2 separate regions of the Homo sapiens genome follow, and region 2 is linked to region 1. The links come from fine-mapping of genetic effects on gene expression. A gene starts in region 1. The other region holds a variant in brackets. All regions are shown on one strand. Distances are between the middles of the regions. Region 1 holds the start of CAP2 (cyclase associated actin cytoskeleton regulatory protein 2). Region 2 has its middle 33 kb from the start of CAP2.

Evidence for each region. PIP is the estimated chance that this variant, and not a neighbour inherited with it, causes the effect. A credible set is the group of variants that fine-mapping cannot tell apart.
Region 2: its variant is the best candidate, but not a certain one, in a credible set for the expression of CAP2 in tibial nerve (GTEx, PIP 0.52).

The regions. Positions count from the first base shown.
Region 1 is chr6:17,392,153-17,395,070 of GRCh38, reverse strand. CAP2 (cyclase associated actin cytoskeleton regulatory protein 2) reads right to left here and starts at 1,476. Exons shown (of 13, transcript NM_006366.3): 1 at 1,325-1,476.
Region 2 is chr6:17,359,481-17,362,398 of GRCh38, reverse strand. No RefSeq gene overlaps it. Among named protein-coding and RNA genes, the nearest start is that of CAP2, 33 kb to the left of the region's middle. The variant A/G (reference allele first, on the strand shown) is at 1,357.

The sequences.
Region 1 (2,918 bases):
CCTTAAGAAGTATTTATATGACACTTTGATTGTAATGTTATTAAGAATTTTTTAAATTTCGGGATTCATGGAGAAGTCGCCTTTCCTTGCAAAATATGCAGTATATTCAAGAAGTCATGCTCCATCTACACTTAAGGTACTGAATTAACTATTTCACACACTTTTATTGTCTATCCATTACATGCTGTGAGCCAAATACTGTTTGGTGCCGTAGGAACTACCAAACAACCCATCCTTGCTTTCAAGAGGCTTGCAGTCTAATTAGACTCTAGTAACTATAAATCCAATTCTCTAAAGTTCACTCTACCGTTGTAATTTTACACTAAGTGGGCTTAGATAGTTTACCAAGAATTCTAAGGAACATAGCTTCAATGAAATCTACAGAAGCAGTAAGGAAATAGGAGTACTCAGTAAACTACAGTGCTCAAGTCCCAGAAGCTTCTGCATTTCCATAACTATAAAACCAAAGGTCCTAGATGTTTTTACCAAGTGTTCATCTCCACTCTGGCTGTTTGGACCTAGTCCCGGTTCAACTTCCTAAATGCAGTCACCCATACATACTCATTTTTAAGAATGCATCCATTCAAATATTGCTACAACTTGCAGCGAACACCACTCTGATGAGAATAAAGAAAAGGCCATCTGCAGGTTGATTTTTGGCCCTAAAAGTGATGATACGGCGGCTACTTCCACGAACACCCCTCTACCCAAAGCAGTCAGAGAGCCAGCGGCGGGTGCCGTTTTTCCGAGCCGTTCCCCCAGTCTCAGTTGCCTCTGCATTTTTTAGAAGTGACTCATCGCCTCAAGTCAGGTTCTGCAGAGGGGAAGCCAGGTCTGTTTCTTTCCAGCACTTTCTGATCGAGGTGGCTCTGGTCAGAGCCGGCGCAATGACTCCCACCCCCACCCCCCTGGAAGACTCACAGCCCGGTGGACGAGACCCCCCAAAGTTAGAGCGGCCGGGCGGGCGGCGGCGCTGGGGTGGGGAGGCCGCGGCCGCCCGCCAACCCCGGGCAGCTCCTGCCCGCACCCCGCCTTCCGAGCGGCCAGGACGCCGGAGCTGGGGAGGCGGGGGCAGGGCGCGCCGCTCCGCTGACCCAGATGGGAGTCCGCCCGCGCCCGCGCCCCGCGCCCGGGTCGCCGCGCCCCGGCCCCCGCGCCCGCGCCGCCTTTATTCCCCTCGCGCTGCTGCCACAGCCGCAGCGTCCCGGCCGCTTCCCTACCCCACCCATCGGGCTCAACTTGCCAGCGCCCGCCGCCAGGCGCCCCCCGCACCTGCACCCCGACCCCTCCCCGCCTCGCCGGGCCCCGACCGCTGCAGGATTACCTGCTTCGCTGCCCTGGGGTCCCGTCCTCGGCAATGCAAATCCGTGGTCGGCCACTCGTACCCTCCTCCCGCGGCCCTCCCCTTCTCCTCCCCTCTCCCTCCTCCCAGCTGAATAGGAGCCGGTGTCAGTCACGCTGCTCCAGGGGAGAGTCGCCGGCAGCTTCCGGAGCTCCAAATACAGACGAGCTGAGGGGGGAGAGGGAGAGCAAAGCCACGCGGGTGGGGAGTGGAAATAAAGGGGAGCAGAGAGGAGAAGGGGGTGGAGGAAAGGAGGGGCAGATGGGCCGTGGGAGAAAAGACAGGGAGATGGGGAAGGCAGAGCCAGGGAACGCCAGCCTGCCTGCCAAGCGCCAGGCTATGCGAGAAATGGATTCAGTGCATGAGGCAGTATTGCAAAGAAGTCTGGAAAGATCCGGAGGCTCCTGGCTGAAGGAGGCACAGATAGGTTGGATACCCGAAGATCTGTGCAGAGAAATGGGTAATGGATCCTTAGGAATCAAGAGACGGCATGTGTGTCCCCAGACCCAATATGAGGATAAAGGCTCTGGGAGGAGAAGGAGCTAGACAGCTAATGCTTTAGCGAGACATCAAGACTGAGTGCACTCATAGTGCGTGTGATGACATTTTTAAAAAGTATTTTATAAACAGCAACTTTTTAAATGTCCTGATTATTTAAAAATTAAAGTAACCAAACCCACTTGGCTTCTTAAGATGTGCAGCATATTTGTGGCCACTTCCCCTTTATATATTGATTATAATTGCAAAATTGGAGGCTTTTCTCTTAACGTCATTAGAAGGAAAGCATTGATTTTCAATTTTCATCAAAGTTTATTTCAGTCTAAAAAAGTGACTTGAAGCTCTTTATTGAATGAATGCCAGGAAAATAATTGCAGAAAAGAGAAAAAAAGAGGGGAAATGTAACTGATATCTTCTGAAAGTAAAATCTCCAAACAATAAATATGAGATGAATTTCTTAAAGGCCAATATTCTCTGTCGATGTTAAAATTGCACATAAGTTGGTTCTGTACATTATAAGGCTTATTCTGACCCCATAGGTCAGCACTTATACAAAGGTCATTCCAATTACACATTGCTCTCTGCTGACAGTAATGAGGTGCAGTGAGTCTTTGCTTCCCTTTGTCTGGAAAGAAGGGAAACAAAATGACATAAACATTGATCAATGAGTGCGTACATTGCATAAAGCCAGAGCCAGCACCCTCCCTATCCTGTGGATACCTTGCATATGGCGGGCATTCAATATGTTTGTATTAAATAATGAATGAATGGATGGATGGATGAAGTATGTATGCATTTAGAACATTTGTGTTCCAGAAATGCAGAAAAAATATATATCCATAAGAATCAATGTGTGCAGGATCACAGGGAAGTTCCAAGCATCCATTCATATGACTTTTTTTTAGCACTAACTTCAACAAACATTAGCACAGTATTTCCTTAGCTACATCTGTTTTTTATTGGAGTATAAAGTATTATGGAGTCTAAGAGTGGATGAGCCACAAATCCTGTCTTTAGGTTGATAATATAGTAGGAAGATGTGAAGAGTATAAAAATAACCACAGTTCTAGGAATGTCG
Region 2 (2,918 bases), 33 kb after region 1:
AGGGGTGTTTTTTCACATAATGAAATGTCTAGATGTAGACACTCTATTATGGTCAATGATTTGACAGTGTTATCGGGATTCAACTAATCTCTCTTTCTAATTTGCCATCTTATGGTGTTAGCTTTTATCATCATGCTAGTTGCCCCATGATCTAAGCTGACACTGATCTAGGCATTATCCTCACATTGAACTCAGAAAAAAAGGAGAAGGTAAAGAGAAGATGCTGACAGTTGTATCGGTTCCTTTTTGCCAGGAAAACATTCTCATAATCCCTAAGTAGGCTTCAACTTGCATGGTATTGGACAGGCCTGTTAAACATGGAATTGTCCAGTCTAGCTACAGAGGATTCTTGGAAAATTTAATTTTCCAGCTTCTTTTCAGGAAGGCAAGGAAGAAGGGGTTGGGAATGGAATATTGAGCCAAGAGATTTTGCCACTCTTTTCTTTACCTCCAAATTATTATCAACCTTAAACAACAGATGTCATTATATTAAATGGGATCAAACTATGTGTGTATTTACGGAGGAAGGAGTATCACTGGTATTTGAATAATTCTAAAGTCAAAATTGGCCGGGCACGGTGGCTCACACCTGTAATCCCAGCACTTTGGGAGGCTGAGGTGGGCAAATCACCTGAGGGTAGGAGTTTGAGACCAGCCTGACCAACATGGTGAAACCCTGTCTCTACTAAAAAGACAAAAACTAGTGGGACGTGGTGGCGCAGGCCTGTAATCCCAGCTACTCGGGAGGCTGAGGCAGGAGAATGGCATGAACCTGGGAGGTGGAGGTTGCAGTGAGCCTAGATCATGCCATTTTGCACTCCAGCCTGGGTGAAAGAGCAAGACTCCGTCTCAAAAAATAAAAAAAAGATATAAAATTATATTTCTTCTTACAACCACATGGCTTTGTTATTAAAGTTTCTTCCTGATATAAAAATACAGATTAAACTTCACAATGATGGGAAGCACTTCAAGATAAATATTAGAATAGATACAATTCTCATTCTTAAGATACTTTTTAGAAAGAAAGTAAATTTGGACAGCTGATCAAAATAGTTGGCAAGAAGACAGGAAAAATAAACAAATACTGCTTTATTTTAATGTGCCAGGTCCAAACCAGCCTTAAATAACTCTACAGAATCTTTTATGAAAAATGATTCACTCCAGGAGTCAAATGTCATAGGCATTTTTTCCCCTAAGTACCGGCCAAAATTGGTGCCCCCACTTCCAACTGAGGGGGCTCACTTGACTCATAAGGGCCTATTAGCATGTCTCTTCTCAACCCCAAGTTCAACGATGTTCATTTTAGTAGCTTGAAATTGACCACCGTGGAAGTATTTTTACCACAGAAATTGGAAA[A/G]TGTTACAAATCACTTATTTTCTTAGTTTTTAAAAATGGCAAATTTTATTTTAGATTCAAGTGGTACACGTGCATGTTTGTTACACTGGTACATTGAGTGATGCTGATGTTTGAGGCACGACTGATCCCATCACCTAGGGAGTGAGCATAGTACCCAGTAGGTAGTTTTTCAGTCCCCACTTCCCTCCCTCCCTGTCTAGTAGTCCCCAGTGTCTGTTGTTCCCATCTCTGTGTCTGTGTATGCCCAGTGTTCAACTCTCACTTACGAGTGAGAACATGTGGTATTTGGTTTCTGTTCCTGTGTTAATTTGCTTAGGGTAATGGCCTTCAGCTGCATCCATATTGCTGTAAAGGGCATGATTTCATTCTTGCTTACGGTTGCTTAGTATTCCGTGATGTATATGTACATTTTCTTTATCTAATCCTCTGTTGATGGGCACCAAGGTTGCAAATCAGTTATTTTTTTTTCTGGAGAGTACTTAAATAACTACTAGCGTACTTCTGACCACTTGCATTAATTTTTAGAGTTGACTACATTACACACCTAGAAACAAATTTCCCCCATTTCATACTCAACATGAAGGCTGCAATGGATCCATTTGCTTTTTCACTTGCATGTCATTTTTCTCCCTAACATAACACCACCACAACCACCACCACCACCAACACCAACAACAACAAAATCAAGGTAGCCAGTAGCAATTTTTATGGCTTAAAAAAATTAAGCTGTGAAAATATTGGCATGAGTAATCTGATGGAGGGGTTAAGAATATACTTGGCTGTGCACAGTGGCTCACGCCTGTAATCTCAGCACTATGGGAGGCCAATGCAGGCGGATCACGAGGTCAGGAGATCAAGACCATCCTGGCTAACACAGTGAAACCCCGTCTCTACTAAAAAGTACAAAAAATTAGCTGGGCGTGGTGGCGGGCACCTGTAGTCCCAGCTACTTAGGAGGCTGAGGCAGGAGAATCACTTGAACCTGAGAGGCGGAGCTTGCAGTGAGACAAGATCACACCACTGCACTTCAGTCTGGGTGAGAGTGAAACTCTGTCTCAAAAACAAAACAAAACAAAACAAGAATAAATTCTTGGCACAGTACTTTGGAGCCAGGGCTACATAGAAGAAACTCTTTGGCAGAAAAGCTCCCATTGACATTAGTGGCTGGTATAGGGCAAAGTAAAGGCCTTCACTGTGGGGTAAGGTCCAGGGCAGAAAATGTTTCTACAGCTCCAGTCCTTACTGCCTAGGAGGTGAGGACTTTTATTTCCTGAACAGTACCAAAAATTACTGTCAGGGTATATAAGTGTTGTAGAGGAATTGCTACACCACTATTATCAGTATCCCAAATGGTATCAGTCATCCTGACACTAGGTACCCTAGAATAATTGTGGCAAAGGTAGAAATGTGAATGAGTGCAGAGTAGATTGAGTAGAATGAGTCCCCACTAGATTGAGAGTGAGGTTGGACACAAGAATCCGATCGTCTTCAGGTATACAATTCTATTTTATCTTCAATCAGATTATTCTTGACTAGAAGTTCATCATCTTTTTCAGGTTTGG